Linked DNA regions of Homo sapiens. The protein of the gene in region 6 purifies or fractionates together with the protein of the main gene of each other region. This does not show direct contact. Each region holds a gene or a part of one and is shown on either strand. Other genes may lie near its edges.

Region 1 (4,436 bases), on a different chromosome or scaffold from region 6:
CTATACAAAAAATTTAGCCGGGTGTGGTGGTGGGTGCCTGTTACTTGGGAGGCTTCTTGGGAGGCTGAGGCAGGAGAATTGCTTGAACCCAGGAGGCGGAGGTTGTAGTGAGCTGACATTGCACCACTGTACTCCAGCCTGGGCGACAGAGAGAGATTCCGTCTCGACAACAACAACAACAACAACAACAAACTGGAAAATAAAAGTTAATTAAAACTGAAGGAAAATTCTCAACCTGAAATGAAAAAGAAATCTTGGCTGACGTAATCTAAGTGTATGCCAAAATTTGTTCATTATGATCTTTTAGTACAAAGCAATTTTGGGCCAGGTGCGGTGGCTCATGCCTGTAATCCCAGCACTTTGGGAGGCTGAGGCGGACGGATCATCTGAGTCAGGAGTTAAGAGACCAGCCTGGCCAACATGGTGAAACCCTGTCTCTACTAAAAATACAAAATTAGCTGGGCATGTGCTGCATATCTGTAATCCCAGCTACTTGAGAGGCTGAGGCAGGAGAATCACTTGAACCCGGGAGGTGGAGGTTGCAGTGAGCTGAGATTGTGCCACTGTACTCCAGCCTGGGCAATAGAGTGAGACTCCATCTCAAAAAAAAAAAGCTATTTTGTCTTATTCAATCACTATTTTCAAAGCACTGACACATTATATTACCTCTCTTTTTTTAAAATATAGAATCACCAGTCAGGAACTTCTTAGAGTTCAAAGAAGCAAGACTGTAAATGTGTAGACCCCAGAAGGGAGGCACTAGGAAAGTGTGTCACAGCATTCTCCATGTGGTGTGGAAGCCCCGGGGTTAGAGGACTGTGTAAATCTGCTCCCGGAGCCCATCCCCAGCCTGCACTGAAGTGGCCACCTGTTGACAGTCGGGAGGAACAGGGCTGGGAGAGCAAGCCATGCCTGGGCCATATGCCCTGTAGTCCTGGGCCTGCTTTATTCTCCCTCCAGGGCTTTCTCCTGTTGTCTCGAAAATACTCTCTTTAACTGGGGATATCTCTATGTCTTGAGGTCAGTTGCTTTATCCTTAAGGATTTGTCATAATAGTAACCAAAAAGGGAAGACGATTGAGAATTAGTAATATTACTGACAGGTGTTTTCCTGGGTAATTCATTTTTACAGGTAATCCAGATTTGCTTGGCAGACCATACACAGTGCATTCTTCCTGCTCTTTTGCAGTGTTGTGGCTGACTTCTGGCCACCCTGTTCTCTTTTACCTAGCAGGGCCTATGCCAGCTCACGTATGCTTTTTTTTTGTTTATGATTTCCGTCCAATAAATAGATTTATGGTTTGTTTGTAATTCCTGTGGTGTTTCTATCTCTTATTTGTTTATTTGGAAACAAGTTTTTTTAGCCTTCAGGTAACCTTGGTGTAATGTAAATAGACCATCTTTATTTCTGAATTTTGGCAATGTATGTTAATGGAATCTTCTGTATCTGTAGGGTGTGGAATTCTTTGATGAAAAGCTGAATTCTTTATGTATGGCTTGGCTCGTGGACCATGGTGAGTAGATAAAAACAGATTATTGAAAGCCCATATATCCATGATTTTCATACATTTCCTTTTAGAAAGGAATCTCAGTCTGACCAGATATTTTGCCTTAATATTGTAGGAATGAAGAAAGGCTCTAATTAAAGTTTAATCTTCTGAATATAAATTTGACGTTTCTACCAATTTTTTGTATCTTCGATTTTATTTTCTCCATTAAACAATTTATTTGCATTATTTTCTTACTCAATCTATTACATTATCTTCAGACCATCTCTTTTATATATCTACTTACTCCTCCCTTATCTGAAGATCCTCTTTTTGACCATCCTGTAATTGGTGTCTTCAGCAGCTATACACTAGGTTGTATGGAGATTGGAATCAGATGAAAGGCCTGGGTGGGAGAAATGGCTACTTGGCTTTTTGAGGTGACATAGAAGAGGAGATCTACAGTGAGACAGTAGAGGATTCTTAGGTGTGGGAAACACTAGCTTTGCCATAGGGAGAGAGAGGGCCTGGATTTCTGGTTTGGGTGAAAGGAAGGCTTACTGCTTGTACTCTCACTGCTGCTGCTACAGTGCTAGGAGAGGGTGAGCTCAGGGCAGGTCAGATAGGACAGCAGGAATGAGCAAGTGACTTCCTGGTGAGGCTTCAGGTAGAGGTATATGTGTGTATCCCCTTGTGTGCCAGGCAGCAGTGGGTGACAGATGTACCGTCTCTGCCAGATCCCAGGTCCAGACTTGACAGCTTCAGTGTTGTCTTAGACCTGTTTCGATGAGTGTGAGTGCCCCTATGGGGTCATGTGACATTGTCCTTGAGCTTTGTTTCCATGTTTTGGTGGATATAATAGATAACCTGAGTCAGTTCCACAGTATCTTTTATATACTTGATATATGTATTTAGTGTATCTCTTTGTTCATCTATGGGTGCTTATGCCTGGAAATTTGGGAGGAATGAGGATATTTGTGTCTGCTTATACGTGTGGGTGGTTTTGTTAAAGGCATGTTTGCATCATATGGAGGATCATATGGTTAAGAGTGTGAAGAGGAAGGATGTGAAAAAATATGTGAAAATGTATAAGGGCTTATATATGTGGGTATTTCCAGTGTTTTCAAACTGGATTGTAGACTTCTTTCTCTTTTTCTTCTCTAAAGTTATCTTATTGTGGCCTATTTATTTCTTTTTAAATAAAATTAAAATTTGGCAAATCATAGGAAAGAAATACCACTTTTAAAAAAAATGTTTATGTTATATCTGATAAATATTTGACGTTACTGGGAATGGTGCATCCTAGCAAATCATTCTGTGCTTTTTTAAATTTTATTTTACTTTAAGTTCTAGGATACATGCATAGAACATGCAAGTTTGTTATGTTACATAGATATACATGTGCCATGGTGGTTTGCCGCATCTATCAACCTGTCGTCTAGGTTTTAAGCCCCACATGCATTAGGTATTTGTTCTAATGCTCTCCCTCCCCTCGCCCCTCACCCCCTGATAGGCCTCAGTGTGTGATGTTCCCTTCCCTGTATTCATGTGTTCTGATTGTTCAACTCCCACTTATTAGTGAGAACATGTACTGTTTGGTTTTCTGTTCCCGCGTTAATTTGCTGAGAATGATGGCTTCTAGCTTCATCCATGTCCCTGCAAAGGACATGAACTCATTCCTTTTTTATGGCCGCATAGTATTCCGTGGTGTATATGTGCCACATTTTCTTTATCCAGTCTGTCATTGATGGGCATTTGGGTTGGCCTCAAGTCATTCTATGCTTTCTTTAAAAGTTGGCATTTTAGATTAAGATGGTGTTTTATTTTGAGGAATTTTTAAAGTTCTAATATTCCACAAAGAATTAAATTCCTGGCACCCTTTCTCTGTAAGATTGTCTTCTCTATGCAACTTGATTACTCCTTCCTCTTTTCGGATTTTCTCTTTCAGTTTGGGAGCAGGAGAAACCCTTGTTTATTTCACTGCAGCAGCATGCTGAAGTGGGGACTGCAAGAGTTCCATGAACCAATGAAATAACAGCTCTGAAATTGTTTTGTACTTAATCACAGGAGCTTTTTTGCTTTTGCATTTCAGATAAGTGTTATATAATGATCACTGGATCAGTTAGAGTTTTTGAAACTTTTCCCCTAGTTAGGTAACTACTAAAAGAACATTGTGAAAATTCCAGAGAAGTATAAGGAAGAAAGTATCACTCACCTATATTCCTGTGGTTGAGTAGACAGTTTTGATCAGAGGGAGGAATGTAGAAGGGAAATTTATTTATTTATTATAGGAGAAAGGAGAAGGTATCAGTTATTGAGCATAGATAGACATTCAAAGAAACCTTGCAGGTCAGCCAGGCCTTGAGAGGAGATGGGGAGAGAGAAAGAGACAGAAATAGACAAAAGAAAACAGGCAGAACTCTGGAATGGTTTGCATTCTTCTGAAAACAGTCAGAGGAACCAAGAACATAGTAGGCATCTGGCCAAGTAGAGTTCAGTGCAGTTAAGGTCTTGGTCAAGGCTATGCATGTGTGTTCCCCAGTCTCTGGTTTTTCTGGCAGTAGAGATCCCTTCCTATGGTAATGGCATTATGATAAAAATCTAAAGCGTGTTAAAAAAAATAGTAATTTGCTGAGCATGGTGGCTCATGCCTGTAATCCCAGCACTTTGGGAGGCTGAGGCGGGTGGATGACTTGAAGTTAGGAGTTCGAGACCAGCCTGGCCAACATGGTGAAACCCTGTCTCTACTAAAAACACAAAAATTAGCTGGATGTGTTGGCGGGCGCCTGTAATCCCAGCTACTCAGGAGGCTGAGGCAGGAGAGTTGCTTGAACCCAGGAGGCGGAGGTTGCAGTGAGCCGAGATCTCGCCACTGCACTCCAGCCTGAGAGACAGAGTGAGGCTCTGTCTCAAAAAAAAAAAAAAAAAAAAAATTAGAGGAGAAGACACA
Region 2 (4,436 bases), on a different chromosome or scaffold from region 6:
ACATGCTAGATCTGTCCCTGACCTCACTTGTTAGAACTGGTCGGATTCCTGGGCTGATACAGAGAAGTTTGAAACTTTTCAAAATTTACCTGTTTTCTGATACCACTACAATTTCTTTGGAAAAAGAATTTCCTGTTAAGTGTCTGTTTTGTAAGGGGACATTTTGTAGGTTCTAGGGTTGGGTATGGTGCTGTCATTTAGTTTTCTTCAGCAGAGATGAGGTAGCCACATAGCTACACTAGACGGCATTGTATCTATCTGCCATCTTGTCAAGGCAGCAGAGTTGTGTTAAGAAAACATTTTTGGAGTCAGATCTGGTTCAAATTCCAGCTGTTATTCCCTGCATCCGTTTCTCTCATTTTAAGATAGGAGCTAATATTGTTTACCTAACAGTGTAGATAGTATAAAAATTAAGAGTTTAAGTGCATTGGACGTATTATTATATACATAATAAATTCTCTGCAGCTACTACTTTTTTCCCTTTCCTGGTGGAGCATTTGAACATCACCTTGAGAATTAGTTGTATTTTGTTTCAGCATGGGGTTAAGTGAAAAGCTAATTTGGGGAGGTAACGCGGAATGTCAGGTAGTCCAGATTGCAGTGCAGAAAGAACACACTGAAAGGATGGTCAGTGTAATGTTAGAGGACTGTGAAAGTTGAGGAAAGAAGTTTAGTTTGTAGATACTTGTTTTTTTGAGCAGGGAATTGTCTTGGCTGGAGGTGAACGTCAGAAAGGTTAATGTAGGCAAGTGTAGAATGGAAATGAAGGTGTGATCATTTAGGAGGTTATTTGTTTAGGTGAGAGTTAATAAATTAGGTTTTGTATTAATAAATGAAAATGGGAGCAGATAAATTTTTAACAAATTAAGAATCATATTTTAAAATCAGCACCAGGTACCTAGAACTCACTGGCAAATAGAAACTTTCAAAAGATATAATCAGGTCCGGGCGTGGTGGGTCACACCTATAATCCCAGCACTTTGGGAGGCTGAGGTGGTGGGTCACTTGAGGTCAGGAGTTCAAGACTAGCCTGGCAAACATGGTGAAACCCCATCTCTACTATTACACAAAAAATTAGCCAGGCGTGCTGGCTGACGCCTGTAATCCGAGCTACTCAGGGCGCTGAAGTGGGAGAATTGCTTGAGCCCAGGAGGTGGAGGTTGCGGTGAGCCAAGATTGTGCCATTGCACTCCAGCCTGGACGACAGATCGAGACACCATCTCAAAAAAAAAAAAAAAAATCAGTTATTTAAATTTAAAAGAGTAAGTTTCCCCAGCACTGTTTCTGTCATGATATAATTAAATGTTTAAAATTATTTGATTTTTTTTTCTTCCAATAGAAAGAAATGCAGGAGTTGAAACTAAATAGCAGTAACTCAGCATCCCCTCATCGTTGGCCCACAGAGAATTATGGACCAGACTCAGTGCCTGATGGATATCAGGGGTCACAGACATTTCATGGGGCTCCACTAACAGGTGAGCTGGCAAGTGGATAATCGCATATTTTAGTAAAACTACTTTACTTCCCTCTTTTAAGTAGATAACGTGTGAAATCACCTTGTTTATATATGTTTGTTAATATACATGTCAACGTCTGTTTATATGTGACTTCAAAAGCTGTATTTGGTGTTACGGAGATTTTTATAATCCCAAGCAGAAAAAACGAGCCGTATGTGATCACGTGTATATAAAGGCTTAAAGAACACTTAATCCACACCTCAGATGAGCTGAGATGAGATTATTCCTTAAATTGAAAAATGTTAATGAATAGAGTTATGCACTAAGAAATGCTTAATTAAGAACCTACACCTCTGGGGAATTATTTTGATGATAATGATGAGAGGCAGGACGTTATATAGGAAATCTTACTTAATTTGAAATATTATGGTTATATAAAGAAAGAAAAGGAGTTTGGACCTGAATCATACTGGGTTTTTAAGTTCTGCTCTATCACTTACTATAATAGCTGTGTAAGATAACCTGTCTGAAACGTGGAGATAATACTTGCCTTACATAATTACTATGAGCATTTGTGTATGTGCAGGTGGGCGTGGGTGTGTATCAGACATTTATTAGAGTATACAGTAAACAGTTAATGAACTAAGGTTACTAATAGTGTTTACTGTGGGTTGGCTATGTGCAAAAGTGCTTTGTGAATGTAATTTTATTTAATTACAGTAACTTAGAATGGCCGGTACCATTATTAATCCCTTTTTTATAAATAAGGAAATTAAAGAAAGGTTAGGTAACTTACTCATTATTATACAGCTAGTTATTGATAGAGCTGAGATTCACACTCCGGTGGTGTAACTCCAAAGCACTTGCCAGTATAATACATTGCTCCCAGGCAGCGAGAAATAACAAAATTGTTCCTTTTACGTACGACAGACTTCTGAAATGGTAGTAGTAGTAGTGCCCTTTTTTTTTCTCTTTTTAGCCCAGGAAAGATTTAGAATAAAATCTAGTTTAGATGAGCACATTTGTGTGATGGTTCATATAGTTAAGGCAACCCCACTAGCCTTTTGTGATAGTATCTTCTCAACACAAGCAAAATAACAGAAAATCTTTGTGAAATCAAGCTTATTAAATGTCATAAGTCATAGATAAGTATATGAAATGTCTAACGTTCAAACCTTGTTTTCTTAAAACCTTACACATCATATAGGTCCTTGTAAGAGGATAAACAAACCGGCTAGCCTTTCCTGGGGCTTTTTTAGTGATGTGTGCAGTCAGTTATTTGGTGCCTTGTGGGTCATGATTTCCATTTCTTCTGTGTACAGGCATAAAAGATCTTCTGTTCTTATACAAGCATGTAAATCCAACATTCTCATTGTCTCATTTTATTCTTGCAATGACCCTGTGAAATGTGTAGAAGCAGCACATCCTCATTTTACAATTGAGAAACATGGAGACTCCAAATGGATTATTTACAGGTTCACAAAACAGCTTTGTGGCACTGAAAGGGCGAGAGCCAAGATCTCCTGATTTCTGTTCCTGTGTTCATAGATTCTTTTTCCTTAATAAAAGTAAACATATATCAAGATGGTCCTTGTTTTTTAAAAATAAGATGATTAAAATTAAAGATTAATGAGCTCATAGGAGATACTCAGAAGTACTGAACAGGGTGAAGAAAACTAAAAGCTAACCACCTTATTAACATTTCCTATATTTGAGAGCATTTCCTTCTAGTTCTTTCTCTATACATATAGTATTTTTTATGAGATTGTTACCATGTTACTATGTTGTGTGTAGATGAGCTAGCCTGTTTTTTAAATGTTACTTTAGTTCTGAGCATTTTTAAACTTAAATGTTTTTTGAACATTAATGAGTTCATGGTATCCCATCACATGGAAGTACTGTAAATTCTGTTCCTTTATTTATGTTGTTTCTGGTTTATGCCATTACAAATTCTAGGACACTGTCCTAGTTTTATAGGGTATTCAGAATATTCAGTTTATGCTCTTACCACTAGTATCTGATAGTGCCATTTTCGCACTTTGCTAATGCTGACTTACTGGTTTATAAAATCCTTTGCCAATTTGTAGGAACAAAAGTGATATCAATTTTTAAGTTTTTTTAATACTAGTCATGGTCAACAATTCATGCAAATGGCAGTTGGTAGTTTTGCCATCTTCAACGTGGGTACCTCCCAGTTGTTTGGTTTCTTGGTAAAACTCACACAAAACAGATGGAGAAGAGTTTGTATATCAACATGAATGTTAATGTGATTTTTTTAAAGCCCGCGAACACATTTGTGTTCCTTGTGATCTCCTTTGCATGAATTTGTCAGGTAATTTTTTTGACCTGAACATTCTCATAATAGCTTCAGTTTGCCCAATGCAACCTCATCATTTTGCGGATTTTTCAAGGCTCACTTCAAAAACATGTTCCTTGAGGCCTATTAACATTTCTTTCCTAAATTGTCTATTCATATGGTGCTTTTAAAAGTTAGATTACTTTTAGTAGATTTATTAGAGCCGCACAGTTTAGAGTCAGTAGTCAATTAAAGTCCCTACTTAAACTTCAGACTAAGATTTTTTTTTTATTTAATATTTTATTTTTTCTTTTTGCTTTCATGCAGACAGACATCTTGCAAGACTTTAAGATTCTTGGGCCATTTCTGTCAGGTTGTTCTGTGTTCTGTGCCTGCTTCCTCCCCATAGTAATTTCAAAATAGCTATCCTCACCTCTGTAAGGTTTCCAAAATCAAACTTGGGCTTCTGGCTAGCCTTTTCTAGGTCTTGATTTTTCAGTGCTTTCCAGAGGCAATTGTTTGGAACCTCTTGGCACAGTTTCTGTTTCTTTTTCCATGTACAGGCATAAAAGGTCTTTTGGTTGTTTTCTGGTAAAACTATCATAAAACAGTTCAAGCAAATGACTATTGGTAGTTTTGCCATTAACATGGGTGCCTTCTAGTCATTTTGTTTCCTGGTAAAA
Region 3 (4,436 bases), on a different chromosome or scaffold from region 6:
AAGTAACAACTAAAATAAGTAAATATCCTCTAGGTTCCTTGACAGTATTACGATCAGAGAAATTAGGCCAGACCTAAACTAAGGGATTAAAGTCTCACAGTAAAAAGGTACAAGAGTTAACAGTCACAGTGCTGCTAGTTACATAATTTATGTACCACCATTTTCCTTTCTTACCAGCATTTCCATCTTCCTTTGGATGCCTTTAAAAGCCTGCCTCCCAGCTGGGAGCAGTAACACACACCTGTAGTCCCAACACTATGGGAGGCCGAGGCAGGCAGACTGCTGTGCTCAGAAGTTCAAGACTAGCCTGGGCAACATAGTGACACCTGTCTCTACCAAAAAATGCAAACCTTAGCCAGGTCCACGTGGTGGTGCGCATCTGTATCCCCAGCTACTTGGGGCGCTGAGGTGGGAAGATCGCTTGAGCCCAGAAGGCAGAGGTTACAGTGAGCAAAGATGGAGCCAGCTGCTGCACTCCAGCCGGAGCAAGAGAGACAGATACTGCCTAAAAAAAAAAAAAAGCCTGCCTCCCTCTTAATTTCCTGCTTTAATCCACTCCCAGCCAGGAAATCAGAATCACCAAGCTTCTTATCCCTAGGATAGAGCCTTACAGCATCACATATTGTGTCAATTAAAGATCTTTTATACAAGCTATTCTCCTGCCTTACAATTACAGTTTAGTTTTTTATTCATTGCTATTTTCCATCTGATTAAGGTATCAGATATCTAACCAAAAACAAATTAAGATATAGGCATGGTCCTCTTTTACTCCAACAGAAGACAATTTTTAGAAAAAGTGTTTTAAGCCAAACAATTTCTTGCCCTTGGTATAAAGCAGCAGCATGCAGAAAACACTAATTGCAGTTTCAATCTCAATGGAATCTAGGCTGGTCCTTAGCATCAGTCTGAGTGATAAATCCCTTATTCCAGAATACACTTAGGAAGAACTACTAAGAACATATTTTTACCTATTTCAAAGAAGAAAATGAGAAAAGGCATTGATTTTAAAAAAAAGAATACATGTTACGGTTTGTACTTACTTTTTAGCAAGATCATATTCTTTAGCTTCATAATACAGCTTTGCAAAATAGAATCCTTTCATTGACTTCTAAAAAAAAATTAAAAGTTGTTTTATGTTTCATACAGAAATATTTTCCAACATTTTTTCAAAAGTAGTTAAAGCCTGACAAATGCATAATTCCATGTTTTATAATTTCCTACCACAAAACAAAAAATAGAGCTGGGTGCAGCGGCTCATGCCTGTAATCCCAGCACTTTGGGAGGCCGAAGTGGGCGGATCACCTGAGGTCAGGAGTTTGAGACCAGCCTGGCTAACATGGTGAAACCCCGTCTCTACAAAAATAGAAAAATTAGCCAGGCATGATGGCGGGTGCCTGTAATCCCAGCTACTCAGGAGGCTAAGGCACAAAAATCAGTTGAACCCAGGAGGTGGAGGTTGCAGTGAGCCAGAGGTTGCAGTCAGCTGAGATCGTGCCATTGCACTCCAGCCTGGGCGACAGAGACTCCATCTCCCAAACATCATCATCATCATCATCATCATCATCATCATAAATAAGCTGGGTGCAGTTGGTCACACCTTTAATTCTATTTAATTCTAGCACTTTCAGAGACCAAGGTGGGAGGCTAGCTTTGAGGCCAAGAGTTTGAAACCAGCCTGTGCAACACAACAAGATCCTGTCTCCAGGGGGAAAAAAATAGCCAGGCATAGTGGAGCATGCCTGTGTTCCTAGCTACTCAGGAGGCCAAGGAAGGAGAATCACTTGAGCCCAGGAGGTTGACACTGCCGTGAGTTATGACTGTGACACTGCACTCCAGCCTGGGTGACACAGGGAGATCCTCTCTCTAAATAATAAATACATAACATACAAAAAATAAATTCAAGAAAGCAAGACAAGCAGACAACAGAAGTTAAGAATTTTCATCAGCCTTGGAAATCTCGGAAACCCTGTGGTACCACTCTCTCACTTAACAAACAAAAGAAACCAGCTTTCTTTGGGGAGGAAAGGTATTCCAGAAATCTCTTCTCCTACCATGTGTAAGCCTCTATGGGAAAGAATAAATAAGTACTTAGGATCTATTAAGGCACTGAGGATTCCCGGGTCCATGTACTGTTCTCTCTACAGATCAGATCAGTATTTTACAGTCAAGGAGTCAAAAAGGCAGAAATAAATATTGAATTCTTCAAGTAATAAACGAGGTCCACAGCCTGGATCCTTGGTTACATAAACTCCAAAGTCCAAAATGCTGATGCACACCAGGCTGGGTGCGGTGGCTCACACCTGTAATCCCAGCACTTTCGGAGACTGAGGCGGGTGGATCACTTGAAGCCAAGAGTTCGAGACCAGCCTGGCCAACATACAGAAACCTCCTTTCTACTAAAAATACAAAAATTAGCTGGGCATGGTGGCACACGCCTGTAATCCCCGCTGCTTGGGAGGCTGAGGCAAAGAATCACTTGAACCCGGGAGGCAGAGGCTGCAGTGGGCCAAGATCGCACCACTGAACTCCAACCTGGGCAACAGAATGATTCCATCTCAAAAAAAAAAAAAAAAAAATGCTGATACAACCAGAGTATGTTCCATCCATGTGATAGAGTATACAGCTACTCAAACATCTTATTTTTGAAATTCCAAGACCCCAGTGAATGTCCAAAACGATGAATAGTACCAAACCAGGTTGCCATCAATCGAAACATGTTTCCTGTTTGTGTCCTCCACCCACAAATTTAATGTCTTGTCCATCTCAACTAAGCACTTATCACACACTGTGGCTGTAACTTTTGCAGTTTGGGGTGTCACAACAAAACTAGCACAAATTTCTTTTTCCTTCTTCACAATTTCATGGACAAAAGATTTGTTCTTACCATAGATCTCAGCAACCCCAGTATATGATCTTTTTTCTTTCCTAAGTCAAAAACTCACCTCTTCACTTAAAGGAAGCACTATATGGCTTCTCTCTGGCATATGTGAACTGCCAGCATCGCTATTCTTGCTCTTTGGTGCCATTTTAAATAAAATAAAGGTCACTTGAACACAAGCACTGCAATACTCCAACAACTGATCTGATAACTGAGGTGGCTAGTATGTAACTAGCGGGTGGGGAGCACATACAGCATGAATATGTTGGACAAAGGGATGATTCGTGTCCTGGGTAGGACGGAGCAGGAGGCCGTGAGATTTTTATCATGTTATTCAGACCTGTTTGCAATTTAAAACTCATGAAATGTTTATTTATATAATCTTCCATTCAATATTTTTGGACCACGGGTGACGCAGGTAAGTAAAACCACGTAAGGCAATACTGTGGATAAGAAGGGACTACTGTACCAGCAACGAACAATCAGAAAATGAAATTAAGAAAGCAATTCCATTTACAATCGCATCTAAAAGAAAAAAATGCCTGGGAATAAATGTAAACAAGGAGGTGAGAGACTTGTATGCTTAAATTACAAAACCTTGCTCAATGCCAGGCTAACACCTGCAATCCCAGCACTGGCGACAGAGCAAGACTCCGTCTCAAAAAAAAAAAGAACTATAGCAATCTTAACAAAAATAATACACAACAGTCAGGACAGCACATAAAGGAACAAGTCCTGTTCCCCCCTTCCTTTTTTTTTTTTTTTTTGAGATGGAGTCTTGCTCTGTCGCCAGGCTGGAGTGCGGTGGCTCGATCTCAGCTCACTGCAACCTCTGCGTCCCGGGTACAAGCTGGGACTACAGGCGCACGCCACCATGCCCAGCTAATTTTTGTATTTTCAGTAGAGATGGGGTTTCACCATGTTGGCCAAGATGGTGTCGATCTCTCGACCTTGTGATCTGACTTCTTCCGCCTCCCAAAGTGCTGGGATTACAGGCATCAGCCACCGAGCCCGGCCAGTTCCCCCTTTTCAAAATGAAGAAATAGATTCAAGGTACAATGCCAAAACATAATAGAAAAATAATTCCATTACCTTCTTTGCTTCCAACTATGTTAAAACATAATAGAAAAATAATTCCATTACCTTCTTTGCTTCCAACTATGTTATTAAAGTAGACAATCTTAAGATAATTAAACAACTTTACAAATTATTCTTCTATATGATCTTTTGCCTCTAACCTGCTCACTTTACAAGGGAACTGAAGCTCAAGCAGACAAATGCCTTGTTTAAAGATATACAGCTAGAAAGGAGCACAGCCCATGTTATGTAAACAGGACAATATCTGATGCAAGCAGTACTTCTTTACATGACAGCAGATGTCACTATAAGCAAATACCTGAATTCACTTAAGCTGCCAAATATCAAGAACTGATGCAGGGCTGAAAACAGGAACAGTAAGACCCTAAGAGATGCCACATCATCGCTATCTTGCACAGTAAGATAGAGATGTAATTGTAATTGTCCAAAACTTAATATTTGTGGCCTACTTTTTCATTAT
Region 4 (4,436 bases), on a different chromosome or scaffold from region 6:
GTTTATGGAAGCACTGTTGACCTACCTTCTCCCACTGGCTTAGTGTGTGAACATCCCAACCTAAAAAGGAAGCTAAAGAATAATTGTTTGCTTAATAAGAAGAGTCTTAACCTAATAAAAGGATTCACCTCAGACCTCTTTTAGCCAGATCTGGTTTATTGATCTCAAACTCCTTGACAAAGTTTTAACTGGTCTGTGGTAAAATGAGGAAAATTCAGGTCATCGAAGTGAGTTTTTCTAAAAATTTAGTTCAATATATTAAATTTAAGAATGTATACAATTTAAAACAGTGTTTTTCAAACTGCTATAGGGGGCAACCTGTTAATTGAGGCTAAAATTTTTATTTTAAGAAATAAAGCCAGCATGATGGCTCATGCCTATTATCCCAGCACTTTGGGAGACTGAGGCAGGTGGGTAGCTTCAGCCAGGAATTCGAGACAAGCCTGGGAAATGTAGGCAGACCCCATCTCTACAAATAAATAAAAAATAAAAAAGATTTAGCCAGGCATGATGGTGCGCGCCTGTTGTCCCAGCTGCTCAGGAGGCTGAATCACTTAAGTCTAGGAGGTTGAGGCCGCAGTGAGCTGTGATCATGCCACTGCACTCCAGCCTGGGTGAGAGGAAGACCCTGTCTTAAAAAAAAAAAGAAAAGAAAGAGAATAATAGAAAATATCACTGCATCACATGCAGTAAAGGTAAATATTTTGTTAAACTTTTGTTCCAGTTTGTGTGTGTGTGTGTGTGTGCTGGGACGTAATGTAAAAGGTATCATTTTTCCAAAAAGTTTGAAAAACAATTTTTAATGGCTGTTCTTTATTCTGAGATTCTGTCTTTCATTTTTTGAATTTTTTAAAGTTTTTAAAGTCCTTACCTATCAGAATAAAACAGCAACAACCCTATGTCATTTGCCACTCTCCACCTTTTTCTTTTTCCCTACTGTTCCTTTTAATCCAAAAGTTTGGAAATCTTTGCTATAGTGGATTAAAACATGATTCGCCTTGTTTTTTTTTGTTTTTTTTTTTTTTGACAGAGTCTCACTCTGTCACCCAGGCTGGAGTGCAGTGGCGCAAACTCGGCTCACTGCAAGCTCTGCCTCCCGGGTTCACGCCATTCTCCTGCCTCAGCCTCCCGAGTAGCTGGGACTACAGGCGTCCGCCACCATGCTCGGCTAATTTTTTGTATTTTTAGTGGAGACGGGGTTTCACCGTGTTAGCCAGGATGGTCTCGATCTCCTGACCTCGTAATCCGCCCACCTCGGCCTCCCAAAGTGTTGGGATTACAGGCGTGAGCCACTGCGCCCGGCCAATTTGCTTTGTTGACAGTATAAATTGGCATAATGTTTTGGGGGAGCAACTTATATACAAAGAGACTTTAAAATGTTCATAAGATTTGATTCATTAATTTTCTTTATAAAAATCTATGCTTAGGAAATATCCTAAATATAGAAAAAAGTGTAAGTCTATTACAGTTTGTTGCATATAATAAAGGAAAATTAAAAACCATTTAAATATTCAATAAGGAACTAGTTAAGTAAACAAATAAATGTACATCCATTTATACAACCATTTAAACTAATAGTCATAATAATGTGAGAAGAATGCCTTTATAGTATAATATTAAAATCATAGAGTGACCACTCACATAGTGCTACGAAGTGCTAGGCCGTGTGCCTTTCCTATATTAACTCATTTAGTCCTTAAAATAACCCTATGAAGTAAGTCCTGTTATTATCCTCATTTTACAGATGGGAAAACTGAGCAGGTCATTTTCCAACAATTCGCTGACACCAACTGGATGTCCTACAGTTCAATTCGATTCTGACACTAACTACCTAGAATTAGCACAGACCCCCAAGTTAAGGGCTCAGTCCTACAAGGCCCTACGTTAGACACCAGCCATAGGTGGGATCCCCAAGCTATCTACACTTCAGCCTGGCCAACTACAAATTAAGCGGTTATCATGATCTTCCTTTCAGGTTCCATAATTTGCTAGAATAACTCACAGGATTCAGGAAAGCATGTACTTAGAATTATAATTTTATTATAAAGGATATGACTCAGAAACAGCTAAATGGAAGAGATGCGAAGGACGAAGTATGGGTTTGGGGTGATGCAGAGTTTCCTTATCTTCCCTGGGCAGCACTCTCCTAGCACATCTGTTTGTTCCCCAACCCAAAAGCTGCCTGAACCTAGTTGTTTCTGGGTTTTCCTATGGTGTTTCATTACCTAGACATAATTAAACTATTGGCCACATGACTGAACTTAATCTGTAGTACCCCTCCCCTCCCTGGATGTGGGGGTGGTGCTGAAAGTTAAACCCTCTAATCATGTGCTCCGTCTTTCCTAACATAAGTCACCTCATGAGCATAAATTCTGGTAAAGCTGACAGTGACTCATTATGAATAACTGACACTCCTATCACTCAGGAACTTCTAAGAGTTTCAGGAGCTCTGTACCAGGAACCAGGGGCAAAGAACAGTATATTTTTTATGTCACGCTGAGGCACAGAGAGGTTAACTTGTCCAAGATCAAATAGTATGTGACAGAGCTGAGATTGAAAATTTTAAAAATTCATATGTATGAACATATACAGGAAGGAAATATCCCAAAATGTTTAAGTTAGAAGATGGGATTATATTAAAACATATTTACTAGGATTATAAATTTATACATACAACGTCATGGGAAATGTAATCTTTACTACAACTTGGAGTGGAGATGTTGCATCATTTGACAATCCTAAAGTTGCAGAATATTAGAGCTAAAGAACCTCTTTAAAAATAAGGAACTATGATCCACAGCATGAGACTTGATCTATATCATACAGTGGGTTGATGACAGAACTGAAGCTAGAATCCAGTTCTCTTTGTTTCTGTCTGTCTCAATTTTATATAAATCAGCTAGATGCTCCTCTGGTCTGTGTTCATGTAGATTAGATATGGACACAGACCATAGCTTTCATATATGTTTGAGATCCTGGCCCTTTATTCAGACTTTCCGATTTTGTATAGGAATCCTCAGCCCCTCCCCACACTGAGACTCAAGTTTTGGCTTGGCGTAGGGTACCTCTGAGATGAAAGACCCAAATAGGACTCTCCTAACTGTCTCCCTGATCTAACCTTGGCCTCCATGAGGGGAAGAAGATAAATAAGGGTACAGTCTTCCCTTGGCAACCCCTTTTTCCAAGTTATCCCAGTTACCAACAAAATTTCTCTGTTACAGGGCTCTGTGGACTGTCCCACTCTGGAGTTTGAGTATGGAGATGCAGATGGGCATGCAGCCGAGTTGTCAGGTATGAGGTAGATGGGTCAGTAGCTAGTGGAAGAATGGCCAGGAGGAGAGGGAAGGGGCCTGTGATCTCCCTGGAAGCTTGTCTGTTCTCACCAAGTGGCTGTTGAACAAAGGCTGTTCTCCACATTCCTTTTCCTCTCCATCCAAGTGGTAAATATCTCTTTGTTTGTCTTCACATTTCCTTCTGTGATTCTCCTTGGCTATGGTATTCTTCATTCTGTCATTCTATCACTCTTTCCTGCTCACTCTTCTTTATTCTCTTTGAAAATAACTGATTTGGTGCACTCTCAAATCAGTTTTCTCTCCATCTTCTCCATATTCCTTCTCTTTTTCTCTTCCTGTCACCCATATCTTTGCCTGCCTACTTCTTTCTGCTGCCCTCTTTCTATCCCATGCCATCTCTTTTTCCTTTGTCTCCTCTACCTCCATCTTTTCCTTCTTCCTCTCGCAACTGCCCCTTATTAAAATCTCAGCAAAGTCCGAGGAAAAACTATAGTCAACTGGCCAGCTGAGCAAGGCTGGACATGTCACCTGCATCCATCATAGTAGAGTTCTGCTTGGATGTTTATGAGCTGGGGTTAAGTAATTCCATTCTTCTTTCAGTGCTGGCCTGCTTGTCTCTGTCTGGATTTTTAGCTTAGGGTAAATGTGATCTCCTCACATTAAGGGCCTCCATGTTACATGTGCTATGAATGCCAGTTATTAATAAACAAGCTTTGGGTGGAGATGTGTGAAATTTAAATATTCTGTCACATGGAAGTGATACTTTGAGGCATGCTTTTTCAGAGAAAAGAGACAAACAATTTTAAAGACGTTCTTGTGCATGAGCACAGAGAATAAATTTTGTGATGAGTGACAGAGAAATAGAGAGCTAAGTTTAATAACCAACAAAGGATTAGAATTCATAATAGGAATATGATATAAATATATATATATTTTAAAGAGAGGAGAGAGATGAGCAACCCAACAAAGAAATGGGCAAAGAATATAAATGGGAATTTATAGAAGAAAAAGCCAAATGGTCAATAAATATATGAGAAGATATTGAACTTTATTAGTATATGGGGAAAAGCAAATTAAAATAATAAAATATTATTTCACAATCATCAGAGTGCAAAACTTAAAAGCCTGGGGTTGGTGAGGGTG
Region 5 (4,436 bases), on a different chromosome or scaffold from region 6:
GCAACTGAGAGGTATTTTATCATATTAAGCCTAAGACTTAAATATAAAAGTGAATAACTCCCCAAATAAACAGTCTCTTCAGTAGTTGTGTATATATATATTTGTAAAAAGGATTTAACAGTACTCCAAGAAACCCACGGAACTAATAAGCTGGAAGAAATGACAAGGTAGTATCTTTGGCAAAGCACATTTAATAACCTCTTAACCAACAAAAATGTAGGTCCTTTTCATGGGGAAACCTATACACTGCTAGTACTCAGCAAGAAGGTACTCTAAAAGGCTAATCTGTGCTGTCCAAAACAATGTTAAACTTAATTAAAATCAATACATTTTTAAAAATTAACAATTCAGTCCCTCAAACGCATTAGTGACACTGCAAGTGCTCAACAGCCACATGTGGCTACTGGCTTCCACACTGGACAGCACAGATAAAAAACATTCCAATCATTTCAGAAAGTTCTACTGGATAGTTTTGAATTAGATTATGGTAGGAAGAATGATATTAAGACAAGTATCTGTCATATTCTGCAAGTTAACCATTAAAATTCCTCCCATTGTCAAGGAAGCATAATATGTAAAAGCAGGTTAAGTACAGATCATTGCAGCTGCAAACTGAGTAAGGGTAATGAGTAAAAACTTTGAATACCAACAGCATCCTCAATTTATGATTTGGTCAGTCCTATGGCACTGACCTAAGTTAAAAAACTACACAGAAAGCAAGCATTTCTTTTTTTTTAGACAGAGTCTCGCTCTTGTTGGCCAGGCTGGAGTGCAATGGCACGACCTCGGCTCACTGCAACCTCCCACTCCCAGGTTCAAACAATTCTCTTGCTTTAGCCTCCCGAGCAGCTGGGATTACAGGCACCCGCTATCACGCCTGGCTAACTTTTTGTATTTTTAGTAGAGATGGGGTTTCACCATGTTGGCCAGGCTGGTCTCCAATTCCTGACGTCAGGTGATCCACCCACCTCAGCCTCCCAATTACAGGCATGAGCCACCATGCCTAGCTGAAGCAAGCATTTCTTTGCCTTTAAAATAGAAGGAAAAAAACTACTGATTTTTTCAGTACCAAGTCTAACAAAGCTCATCATGAGAAAAAACCCAATACTTCAAATAGGGCAGCACTTTTATAAAAGGTCATGGTAATGGTTCACTTATTTAATTATAAAATCTTCAGAGAAGTATCACAGATTTTTTAACAAGCACAAGAGGCAAGATCTGTGCTTTCAAAACTGTCTGGAAGACAAGAAGTGTCACCAACATAACCCTTGAACTGTCTTGAAATGTCTTTCATTTCTAACTCCCTGTCTAGGTTTATTCCTCCTTTATTCAATAAAGACCTGCCACAAGTGAGTTAAAAAAAAATTAAGACACAATGGAGAGAGCACTACTATACTTAATCCTAACATCTAAACAAAGGCATTTTAATTTCATTTGCAAAATCAAAGGACTACAAACTATCCACAATCTGAATTAAAACATTTAATACTTTGACCTTATGAAATCAGTTTAAAATTAATGCCAAGAAAATATCTTTGATGTCCAGAAAGGAAATGACTGTTTCACAGCAACAACTAACAAGAGCAAATAAATAAAGCGTTGGACTGAATAACCTATAAAACCTGCAAATATCTAACAGGCTGTACATGATACAATACACAGAAAATTAATGAGAGATTTAAAGTTTCTACACTGAACAGCATGGCTATTAAAGACACAACATTCTTTTAATAAATTTCATTTATTTGCTGATCTAATCTGGGAGGGAAATTCAATGTAAAAGCACTTTTAAAATGGACCCCCCTTCCATCCACACCCCAAAAGTTGACTGTTTATTTAGTGTACATTCTGATTTGCTTCCAAGTGCCTTCTCTCCAGTCCATGTTGAGGTGCTTCAAGGATGTGTCGAGATGCATCAAGGAAGAATCCTTCGGACTTGTTACGATGTACCATGTCAATCTGTAGTATAGAGTCATTATAATGTTAATACGGATATCATCCGTAATTTAAAAACTGAATGAGTGTTAGTTCATGCGTGTTAGCCAACTGTTTGAAATGTTTGCTTTTTTAAGATTTCCAAAAAGGCATCTGTTCAAAAATAACATGAAAATTAGTATTTGGGTAAAAATGAGCTCTCAAACTTTCTACTGATTTTTTAAGTATGTGCTCAAAAACTTCTAGTTAAGGGCAAAGTTCTGTATTATAACAGTCTCAAAAGGATCTCTTACTCCAATCCAAAATGCTGTTATGTGTAACTCTGTTTCTTAGCTCTAAATGTGTTGTAAAATTACTTTTGTGTTTAGGCATATCAGAGCACTAGTACCTAAACACACCCTACAATACCATACTTTTTGTGCTTTTATTATACAAGTTTCTCTGCCCACCCACCCACTTCTGCTTGTTTACCTACCTGCCCATAATTAATTCAAGGCTGGACTGAGACAGACTTTCTTCCCTTCCTTGTTACCTTTCCAGATTTTCCTTATGACAGTTAATATTGTTCCCTCTAGCGTTCCAGTAACAATTCATCTACTTTGGGATTCATCACGCCCTACCTTATAGTAGATTGTTATGTTTGTGTCTGTATCTCCCACTATACTGCAAGCTTGTACATTCATCTTATTATTTCCCATAACTAACCCAGTGCCAGTATTAATGTTTGTTTAATTAAGTCGAAGTGTCTCCTTTTTGGGAAAAATCAAAATCACAAACATTAATATGTATTAGTGAAAATTAATAACAAATAACTGAATAGTCATTTTATGGGAGGCAAGGATCATCTGAACTTAGATGAAGAATTCAATCTACATAATAAAAAAGGATGGCTTACAGCTATCTTAGGAAATGTTTAACCTTACTAATTAATAAACCAGCTCTGGTGAATAGTAAAATCTAATATATTTTAGGAAACATTTGCTTCTGTCATAGTTGCTACCAGATGGGACCTGCAAGCTATAGTTATCCTATTCTAAGCACTTTTTTTGTAATGGTATTCTTCGCTTTAGATCTTTAACATTTTATTTTTAGGTTATAAAACATACAAACCTTTTAGAAATTCTCAAGATTATATTTATCTTACAAATAATATTAAGTCAACTCCTTTTAGTGCCTTTAAAAAGTCTTAGTTACTATAGTTATTATTATACCTTTAAATTTAAATGATTTTAGAATGGTCTCATTAACAATAGTTAAATTTTGTATTCAAAAGATCACCACTTAAACATCCCTGGATTGCCATTTGATTAGGAGATGAATAGCATAATTAGAAAACATTAAACACAAATTTTTAATTTAATTTATTATTTTACTGGTTGACACAAGAGGTACCTATCATTAGGTTTTCTAATATAATAAAGGCATATAAAGAGCTATTTGATAGGTATTTAATTCTAATAGAATTAATTACTAATAAGTTAAAAACACGTACAAGCACCAAAATGGAAGAAGTATTTTAAAGAATCTAAAATGTGTTTCAATAATAGATAAATATGAAAATATGTCCTTTCCTATTTCTGTTGTAACAAATGGGGAAAAGAAGGCTCATAATCACTGTTTCTTAAATAATATTGGTAATAATAATAGTCAGCTCACCATTATCTAATACAGGTAACAGTCTAGTTTCCACAATCTAGTTTATTATTTTTATTTCATATCAGCAACTAAAACTCAGTTTAAAATAAATATGTGAGAAAGGATTATTCTACTTGTCTTCATAGCAGTTGCCATAAAATATGCCATAAAATATGGGGACATACCAAAGGGAATAGACACAGGGATGACAAAGGGATGAACAGCAGGTAAAACACTAATTTCTAACTACTTCAGCTTTGTTTCTAAAAAATGATGTCAACTGGTATACAATACTGGGGCAAGGGAGCAAAATTTTACTATGTTGGTTCTTCTCCTGAACCCCATGTTTTTTCCATTATAATAAACAAGATCATTTATAGTCTGGATGAATTAGCCTTATTCAGAAAACAGTCTTAAGAAAAATCTACATTAAACTGCTTTCAGATTTTAAAAAAGGTTTCCATTATTTTTTGTTTTTGCAAGAGAAGTCAATACACAAATTTATTAGAAAAAATGTTTCTTAAAAAAATTTCTGTTTTTTAAGAGACAGGGTCTCACTCGGTTGTCTAGATGGGAGTGCAATGGCATGATCGTAGCTCAATGTAACCTCAAACTCCTGAGCTGAAGTGGTCTATCCACCTCAGCCTCCTGAGAAGCTAGGACTGCAGGCATGTGCTACCACACCCGGCTAATTTTTTTACTTTTTGAAGAGATGGAGTCATGCTATGTTGCCCAGGCTGGTCTTGAACTTCTGGCCTCAAGTGATCCTCCTGCCTTGGCCTCCCAAAGTGCTGGGATTATAGGCGTAAGCCACCATGCCCAGCCCTTTAAGAAATATTTCTTAAAAGTATATAGCCCTACAAAAA
Region 6 (4,436 bases):
TGACAGCATCTGGCTTTCAGTTCCTCAGTCACCACTACTTTGTACCAAATTCACTGTTTTGGCTCTGAAATCTAATTTTGAGTTTAGCAAGGATGTCTGCATTGCTCATGCAAATGAACTAAGCGTTCATTGGAATGACACCATCACCACCCAAATGAAAAGAACTGGCTGGAATATTCATCAGCCTACTAATGTCATCTCCCAACCCACTCTCCAAACTCCATCCCAAAAAAGCATCCAGTTCAGAATTGCCCACTGTTGGCAAAGAAAGAATGTCACTAATTTATTTACAGGTGAGTATTAACACTTTCTGCCAATGTGTATTTTAAGCAATTACATTTAGCAATTACAATTAGATTCTTGGCATCCTCAAGGGTTCCATCATCTTCAATCTGTCCTAAGCCTCAGTTTCCCCATCTCTAAAATGAGGATAATAGTACCTACATCATAAGGTGGTTCTGAGTATTAAGTAAGATGATCCATGTAAAGCACTTAGCACAATGCCTGGCACACAAAAACACTCAGTAAATATTAGCTATTATTTTGCATAGATTTATTTACCTGGTTTGGAATTTTGAGGATCCACCTCAAAAGCTGATCTTTGTAATTTTCCTGAAGCAGGGCTCAGAACAGCCCACTTGATAAGAGACAGAGTATGTGAGTCTTATCAAAGGAGTGAACCCAGCTGGTCACTCTGCGTGGTATCCACAGCTCAACCTTTGTTGTTTTCTTCTTCCCATCACCTATAAGGCAACTCCTATGAAGATTTTTGTGAGGGGTTTTTTAACTTTAAATCTTTGTGGAAAAAAAAAGACCCTAACCAAAAAAAAAACTGATACTGCCAGAAGTAGAAAAAAGAGAAAATGAAAACATCCAGAAAACTAATGACTTTGTATTCCTTAATTTGGTGATTTACCAAAGTGTCAAGACATGACTCCCACACCAATGACAACCACTTACATTTCCCCTAGAATGGCAGATTTTTTAACGTACTGGGTTTCCTAAAGCAATTCTTATTTTATATATTCTAATTTATGTACATGAATGTGTCACTTAGACCTGTCACTAGGGATGGTTTAGAAAATAAACTTACACTGCACATGCCTCAGTCCACTTCAAAACTACTGGCAAATGCCTGTAGTCCCAGCTACTCAGAAGGCTAAGATGGGAGGATTGCTTGAGCCCAAGAGGTCGAGGCTGCAATGTGCTATGATGGCACCACTGCACTCCAGTCTGGGTGACAAAGTGAGACCCCATCTCTAAAAATAAAAATAAATAAATAAAAGACGCGAGTTCCTTGTGAATATCAAAAGTCTAATCTGCTGTTATAAATATGAGGAACAAAGCAAAGGGAAGAAATAGGAAAAAAGAAAGACTTCTCTATTTTCTCATCTCCCTAACATTCCTTCTATCTCTAAAATTCCAGACTTTTCTACATTTTCCTCTTCCATGGTACCCGCCCCCCAACCTCCACCCCAACACTGACCTCCTTCTATATTGGCCCTTCCTCCTCCTTACAGGGAGCAGATAGCAGGGACTTACAGATGAACCAGGCCCTGCGATTTTTGGAAAATGAGCACCAGCAACTGCAGGCCAAGATTGAATGCCTGCAAGGGGACAGAGACCTGTGCAGCTTGGATACCCAGGACCTACAAGGTACTCTTCTCCTTGGAGGCCTTGAGTGCATGGCAGCCATGGCCAAGTGAGCTAAGAAAAAAGAAACTGAATTAAGAGAAAGGCTTCAGCCTTTTATTTGTTTGCTTGATTGGTTGATTGGCTTTATAATCTCATTTTACCTTGAGGGAGAGGCAGGACTGTTTTAATCATCCAAAATTGAAAATTAATTTCACTGTAGTAGATAGAGTATCTTGTTGTCTGAGCTCTCTTTTTTAGCCCATCCCTCTGGGCCAGATCACAGCTGCTCCCACATCAGTCACATATGTCAAGGCCACAGTCCTAATTTGAAAGGGAAAGGTCAGTTGAAACACAAGGCATAGAGAAAGTCTCTCAGTCACATCCTCTGTGTCCGCTGATAGAGAGGACTAGATAGTGTGTAAACACAAGCCTCAATGCAACCCAACATTGTTGATGCACAAAAACCTGAGGTACTTGGCTTCTGGTTTACCTCTTCAGAACTGGGACACGAAGATAGAGCAACTTCCAATAGACACACGTTAAAGACCATGACAAGACAGCATCTATTACTAATTTCCATCCTAAGTACTGAGTTCATTAAGTCTTGGGTTCCTTTATTTTGGCTTGCATTATTGCATTTTCAGATCAACTAAAAAGGTCAGAGGCAGAGAAACTCACCCTGGTGACCAGAGTACAGCAGTTGCAGGGTAAGTTCGCTTTCCAGATTCTGAAAGTCCACAGGGTTTTCCTGGGGTCCTGGCCCACAAAAGGCACCCAGAGTAGGGACTAAGGGCCCAGTCTTTGGCATATGCTCTAACTCTGTGCACTTTCAGACCCTCTTCTTGTAAAGTGAGGTCATTTACATAGCTCTCCATAAATTATGTGTTAGCCTCTGTTCTTTTTTTTCTACTGTTCTCCTTCCATGCCAATGACACCACTTACATTTCCCCTAGAACTGCAGATTTTTTTTAAATACTGGGTTTCCTAAAGCAGTTCTTATTTTATATATTCTAATTTATGTACATGAATGTGTCACATAGACCTGTCATTAGAGATGGTTTAGAAAATAAGCTTACACTATACGTGCCTCAATCCACTTCAAAACTACATATTGGGCCCAAAGAGGAAAAGGGACTTCTCAGAAGAAAAGCAGTTTCTGAAAAGCTGGAGAACCTGACTCAATTAATACAGCTGCTGGTTGCCCACCACTTTAACCTCTGACACCTGATAGAGAAGCTTCATGAAAGCAGCAATGATTATTAAGAGAGCAAAGCAACCACAGGGAAAAGGGAAAATCTTCAAGCAAAGACTTGAAGATAGAGACATGGTAGGGGGAGATATAAGGATGCTATATTCATAGCAAAGTACCACAGACTGGGTGCCTTGAAGAACAGAAATGTATTGTCTCACAGTTCTGGAGACTAGAAATCCAAGATGTCAGCAGGGTTGTTTCCTTCTGAGGGCGTTTAGGGAAAGATCTATCCCAGGGCTCTTTCCTTGGCTTTGTAGATGGCCGTCTTCTCTCTGTGTCTCTTCACATTGTCTTTCCCATGAACATATCTGTGTCCATATTTCCCCTTCTTATAAGGACACCAGTGATATTAGATTGGGGCCCACCTGAATGACCCCATTTTAACTTGATTATCTTTTAAAGAATCTATCTCCAAATAAGGTCATTATTTAAGGTACTGAGGGTTAGGACTTCAACATATATATTCTGGGGGACAAAATTCAACACACAGCAGATGGGAACATATTTAATAACCAAGGTTCTAAGCAAAGTTCTGAAAAGAAAACTTTTTGTAGTAAATATGCTAGCATAGACAAGTTCCTTGTGTTTTCCAACAGGTTTGCTTCAAAATCAATCCTTACAGCTTCAAGAACAGGAGAAACTCTTAACAAAGAAAGGTCAGCAAATTTATTACCACAAATTCTAAGATATTGCTCTTCTCTTACCTGCCTAGAGGCAGCGGGATGGACTACATGACCTCCTGGAGTCCCAGCCAGTTCTGGGAGTCTGTTAAGTCCGGGATGTGTGGGAGCTTTTTAAGGACTGATCATTGGCTCTGAGGACACTTCAACTAGTTAGCCTTCTATCTTGAGGTATATAAACTGTGAAAAAGGGTTTCTATTCTCTCTGAAAGCACATGTCTGTGTTGAACATTTCAATAAATTTATTTTGAACTCAGGATTTCATGTCAATTTTTACACACTTGATTTTCCAAATCACATCCAACTCCCCAGCCCCAAACCACATAGCAGTCCAGAGTCAACTCACTGTTAGCCCTAGAGAGTCTACTGTCCATGTTTCCTGAGAATTCACTGTGTATACAGAGGGGCAATAGCTCCTCACCTGTCCACTACACACGACCTTTTGTTTTCTCTTCACAATCATTGGGCATAATATAATAGATAAGGCAGAAATTTTTATGCTCACAGAGTATGGATAAGAACATGAAAGTCTATGGTGACACAAACTAACAACACAGCTATAACAACAATCCAAAACTTCTGACTCCTAGTCCATGCTCTTTTCACCAAGACTAAGACTGCAGGGTGGCTAAAAAACCATCTTTAACCATATGAAGATAAATTTTAGGATATGACTGCCATCTTCACAACTTTCAAATGAGGACATCAGGGAAAAGGGATTGTATTAAAGCATTTACCAAACTTATTTGACAAACTAGGAAGAATGTGACATACAACCAATGAAATTCAATTAAGAAGTATTCACTAAAACTATCTAGCACTAGATAAGACTGGGGATACAAAGAAAAGATCCCAATCTTGCCCTCAAG
Region 7 (4,436 bases), on a different chromosome or scaffold from region 6:
GTATGATCACAGCTTACTGCGGCTTCAACCTCCTAGCTCAAGAGAGCCTCTTGGCTCAGCCTGCCACGAAGCCAGGACTACAGACAGTCACATGCCACCAGGCCCAGCTAATTGTTGTATTTTTTGTAGAGATGGGATTTTGCCATGTTGCCCAGGGTGGCCTTGAACTCCTGGCTCAAACAATCCTCCTGCTTCAGCCTCCCAAAGTGCTGGGATTGCAGGTGTGAGCCACTGTGCCCAGCCTACATACCTCGGTCTTGACCCTTTACCATATTTTGTTTTGTTTTGTTTTGAGATGGAGTCTCACTCTGTTGCCCAGTCTGGAGTGCAATGGTGTGATCTTGGCTCACTGCAACCTCCACCTCCCAGGTTCAAGTGACTCTCCTGCCTCAGCCTCCCGAGTAGCTGGGATTACAGGCACCCGCCACCAGGCCCAGCTAATTTTTGTATTTTTAGTAGACACAGAGTTTCACCATGTTGGCCAGGCTGGTTTTGAACTTCTGACCTCAGGTGATCTGCCCACCTTGGCCTCCCAAAGTGCTGGGATTACAGGTGTAAACCACCGCACCCAGCCCTTTACCATATTTTTGAAAGTACTTTATGTGTCTCTCTCCTCATCTTCCACAAAATTTGAGACCTTCAAAGGTAGAAACTGTTTTATTTAAAATATAAGAGTTCCTGACACAGAGAAGGTTCCCGAGTGATTGAAGTGCTACAATGTACTAATCATACTCTGGTCTATGAGTTCATTCCCAGATTAGCTGTGGATTACATGTGTTTCAAATGTATAGCTAGGAATCGAAAAGTGGTCTGAGCTTCAAAAAGTCTTACTATATTTTAATACTTCCATATGAATTTGACTTAATTATGTAAGGAAATAGTTATGTATATATATCTTATTTTAACAATAGGGTTCAAAGGAGCTTGACTTTTTTGGAATTGGAAATAAAAGTAGGTTCTTTCATGTTTATCAAGCAAGAACTAAATTACTCATACTGCTAAAGTTACATCAAGGATATGCTGATGTGTGGCGATTATTACAGTGTGATCAGCAGCATTTGCAAATTAAGAGAATACTATTTGGTGGGGAAGACATTTTTGAATTTGCACAAAAATTTTGAATGTTAATTCTGTGTAGTCGTGGCCTATGACAATTACATACAATTTTGACTTAACATACAGGTTTCAGGCTCCCAACATTGTATTCTGTGGAAGTATAGTGGAGCACTAGTCCATGAGCTTGAAAAGCTTGGTACTAGTACTGACTCTGCCATTAATTAATGATCTTGGGCCAGTCACTTCCTTTGTGACTGTTTGGCTTCTTATCTTTAAAATGAGAGAATTATTGAAGCCAGTTCTCATCACACTGAATGTTAAAAATTACAGTTACAGCAGTGATTGCAAATTCAAAGCTCTGGTGCGGATACCAACAGTGACTATAAAGTTTTCTAGGTGATTCCACTAGTTTCTTATTTCTTGGATGTGTATGTGTAGCATCTGGACTAGGCACTGTAGATGGATGAATGGGGGAAATTTTATTTAGCTTGAAAATTGAGATAGTTTTGGACCTCATGGTTAGGTCTTTCTGGGAAATTTTTAATTGAAACACTTGTAGAAACAGAAAGCAGACATGCTAGATCTGTCCCTGACCTCACTTGTTAGAACTGATCGGATTCCTGGGCTGATACAGAGAAGTTTGAAACTTTTCAAAATTTACCTGTTTTCTGATACCACTACAATTTCTTTGGAAAAAGAATTTCCTGTTAAGTGTCTGTTTTGTAAGGGGACATTTTGTAGGTTCTAGGGTGTTGGGTATGGTGCTGTCATTTAGTTTTCTTCAGCAGAGATCAAGTAGCCACATAGCTACACTAGACGGCATTGGATCTATCTGCCATCTTGTCAAGGCAGCAGAGTTGTGTTAAGAAAACATTTTTGGAGTCAGATGTGTTTCAAATTCCAGCTGTTATTCCCTGCATCCGTTTCTCTCATTTTAAGATAGGAGCTAATATTGTTTACCTAACAGTGTAGATGGTGTAAAAATTAAGAGTTTAAGTGCATTGGACGTATTATTATATACATAATAAATTCTCTGCAGCTACTACTTTTTTCCCTTTCCTGGTGGAGCATTTGAACATCACCTTGAGAATTAGTTGTATTTTGTTTGAACACAGGGTTAAGTGAAAAGCTAATTTGGGGAGGTGATTTGGAATGTCAGGTAGTCCAGGTTGCAGTGTAGAAAGAACACACTGAAAGGATGGTCAGTGTAATGTTAGAGGACTGTGAAAGTTGGGGAAAGAAGTTTAGTTTGTAGGTACTTGTTTTTTTGAGCAGGGAATTGTCTTGGCTGGAGGTGAACGTCAGAAAGGTTAATGTAGGCAAGTGTAGAATGGAAATGAAGGTGTGATCATTTAGGAGGTTATTTGTTTAGGTGAGAGAGTTAATGAATTAGGTTTTGTATTAACGAATGAAAATGGGAGCAGATAAATTTTTAACAAATTAAGAATCATATTTTAAAATCAGCACCAGGTACCTAGAACTCTTTGGCAAATAGAAACTTTCAAAAGATATAATCAGGTCCGGGCGTGGTGGGTCACACCTATAATCCCAGCACTTTGGGAGGCTGAGGTGGTGGATCACTTGAGGTCAGGAGTTCAAGACTAGCCTGGCAAACATGGTGAAACCCCATCTCTACTATTATACCAAAAATTAGCCGGGCGTGCTGGCTGACGCCTGTAATCCCAGCTACTCGGGAGGCTGAGGTGGGAGAATTGCTTGAGCCCAGGAGGTGGAGGTTGCGGTGAGCCAAGATTGTGCCATTGCACTCCAGCCTGGACGACAGATCGAGACACCATCTCAAAAAAGAAAAAAAGAAAAAATCAGTTATTTAAATTTAAAAGAGTAAGTTTCCCCAGCACTGTTTCTGGCATGATATAATTAAATGATTAAAATTATTTGATTTTTTTTTTCTTCCAATAGAAAGAAATGCAGGAGTTGAAACTAAATAGCAGTAAGTCAGCATCCCGTCATCGTTGGCCCACAGAGAATTATGGACCAGACTCGGTGCCTGATGGATATCAGGGGTCACAGACATTTCATGGGGCTCCACTAACAGGTGAGCTGGCAAGTGGATAATCGCATATTTTAGTAAAACTACTTTACTTCCCTCTTTTAAGTAGATAACGTGTGAAATCACCTTGTTTATATATGTTTGTTAATATACATGTCAACGTCTGTTTATATGTGACTTCAAAAGCTGTATTAGGTGTTACGGAGATTTTTATAATCCCAAGCAGAAAAAACGAGCCGTATGTGATCACGTGTATATAAAGGCTTAAAGAACACTTAATCCACACCTCAGATGAGCTGAGATGAGATTATTCCTTAAATTGCAAAATGTTATTGAATAGAGTTATGCACTAAGAAATGCTTAATTAAGAACCTACACCTCTGGGGAATTATTTTGATGATAATGATGAGAGGCAGGACGTTATATAGGAAATCTTACTTAATTTGAAATATTATGGTTATATAAAGAAAGAAAAGGAGTTTGGACCTGAATCATACTGGGTTTTTAAGTTCTGCTCTATCACTTACTATAATAGCTGTGTAAGTTAACCTGTCTGAAATGTGGAGATAATACTTGCCTTACATAATTACTATGAGCATTTGTGTATGTGCAGGTGGGCGTGGGTGTGTATCAGACATTTATTAGAGTATACAGTAAACAGTTAATGAACTAAGGTTACTAATAGTGTTTACTGTGGGTTGGCTGTGTGCAAAAGTGCTGTGTGAATGTAATTTGATTTAATTACAGTAACTTAGAATGGCCGGTACCATTATTAATCCCTTTTTTATAAATAAGGAAATGGATAAAGAAAGGTTAGGTAACTTACTCATTATTATACAGCTAGTTATTGATAGAGCCGAGATTCACACTCCAGTGGTGTAACTCCAAAGCACTTGCCAGTATAATACATTGCTCCCAGGCAGCCAGAAATAACAAAATTGTTCCTTTTACGTACGACAGACTTCTGAAATGGTAGTAGTAGTGCCCTTTTTTTTTTTCTCTTTTTAGCCCAGGAAAGATTTAGAAAAAAATCTAGTTTAGATGAGCACATTTGTGTGATGGTTCCTATAGTTAAGGCAACCCCACTAGCCTTTTGTGATAGTATCTTCTCAACACAAGCAAAATAACAGAAAATCTTTGTGAAGTCAAGCTTATTAAATGTCGTAAGTCATAGATAAGTATATGAAATGTCTAACGTTCAAACCTTGTTTTCTTAAAACCTTACACATCATATAGGTCCTTGTAAGAGGATAAACAAACCGGCTAGCCTTTCCTGGGGCTTTTTTAGTGATGTGTGCAGTCAGTTATTTGGTGCCTTGTGGGTCATGATTTCCATTTCTTCTGTGTACAGGCATAAAAGGTCTTCTGT

Evidence for each region.
Region 1: the proteins of TRAF3IP3 (region 6) and PPP2R1B purify together in Homo sapiens (co-immunoprecipitation; 3 studies listed by BioGRID and IntAct, with this or other methods). This does not show direct contact.
Region 2: the proteins of TRAF3IP3 (region 6) and RANBP2 purify together in Homo sapiens (affinity purification with mass spectrometry; 2 studies listed by BioGRID and IntAct, with this or other methods). This does not show direct contact.
Region 3: the proteins of TRAF3IP3 (region 6) and RGPD8 purify together in Homo sapiens (affinity purification with mass spectrometry; 2 studies listed by BioGRID and IntAct, with this or other methods). This does not show direct contact.
Region 4: the proteins of TRAF3IP3 (region 6) and STRIP2 purify together in Homo sapiens (affinity purification with mass spectrometry; 3 studies listed by BioGRID and IntAct, with this or other methods). This does not show direct contact.
Region 5: the proteins of TRAF3IP3 (region 6) and FGFR1OP2 purify together in Homo sapiens (affinity purification with mass spectrometry; 3 studies listed by BioGRID and IntAct, with this or other methods). This does not show direct contact.
Region 7: the proteins of TRAF3IP3 (region 6) and RGPD5 purify together in Homo sapiens (affinity purification with mass spectrometry, with the first as the bait; 2 studies listed by BioGRID). This does not show direct contact.

The regions. Positions count from the first base shown.
Region 1 is NC_000011.10:111,745,031-111,749,466, reverse strand, and holds part of PPP2R1B (serine/threonine-protein phosphatase 2A 65 kDa regulatory subunit A beta isoform), read left to right. Parts: intron 1-1,452; coding exon 1,453-1,513; intron 1,514-4,436. UniProt on the Homo sapiens protein: The PR65 subunit of protein phosphatase 2A serves as a scaffolding molecule to coordinate the assembly of the catalytic subunit and a variable regulatory B subunit.
Region 2 is NC_000002.12:108,757,074-108,761,509, forward strand, and holds part of RANBP2 (E3 SUMO-protein ligase RanBP2), read left to right. Parts: intron 1-1,339; coding exon 1,340-1,475; intron 1,476-2,871; coding exon of another isoform or gene 2,872-2,984; exon of another isoform or gene 2,985-3,040; intron 3,041-4,436. UniProt on the Homo sapiens protein: E3 SUMO-protein ligase which facilitates SUMO1 and SUMO2 conjugation by UBE2I. Involved in transport factor (Ran-GTP, karyopherin)-mediated protein import via the F-G repeat-containing domain which acts as a docking site for substrates.
Region 3 is NC_000002.12:112,423,200-112,427,635, forward strand, and holds part of RGPD8 (RANBP2-like and GRIP domain-containing protein 8), read right to left. Parts: intron 1,109-4,436; coding exon 1,041-1,108; intron 1-1,040.
Region 4 is NC_000007.14:129,436,801-129,441,236, forward strand, and holds part of STRIP2 (striatin-interacting protein 2), read left to right. Parts: intron 1-3,221; coding exon 3,222-3,291; intron 3,292-4,436. UniProt on the Homo sapiens protein: Plays a role in the regulation of cell morphology and cytoskeletal organization. Required in the control of cell shape. Calmodulin-binding scaffolding protein which is the center of the striatin-interacting phosphatase and kinase (STRIPAK) complexes.
Region 5 is NC_000012.12:26,958,038-26,962,473, reverse strand, and holds part of FGFR1OP2 (FGFR1 oncogene partner 2), read right to left. Parts: intron 1,960-4,436; coding exon 1,846-1,959; coding exon of another isoform or gene 1,837-1,845; exon of another isoform or gene 1,723-1,836; intron 1-1,722. UniProt on the Homo sapiens protein: May be involved in wound healing pathway.
Region 6 is NC_000001.11:209,775,832-209,780,267, forward strand, and holds part of TRAF3IP3 (TRAF3-interacting JNK-activating modulator), read left to right. Parts: coding exon of another isoform or gene 1-293; intron 294-1,520; coding exon 1,521-1,656; intron 1,657-2,279; coding exon 2,280-2,342; intron 2,343-3,376; exon of another isoform or gene 3,377-3,483; coding exon 3,484-3,543; coding exon of another isoform or gene 3,544-3,572; exon of another isoform or gene 3,573-3,599; coding exon of another isoform or gene 3,600-3,622; exon of another isoform or gene 3,623-4,436. UniProt on the Homo sapiens protein: Adapter protein that plays essential roles in both innate and adaptive immunity. Plays a crucial role in the regulation of thymocyte development.
Region 7 is NC_000002.12:109,828,341-109,832,776, forward strand, and holds part of RGPD5 (RANBP2-like and GRIP domain-containing protein 5/6), read left to right. Parts: intron 1-2,976; coding exon 2,977-3,112; intron 3,113-4,436.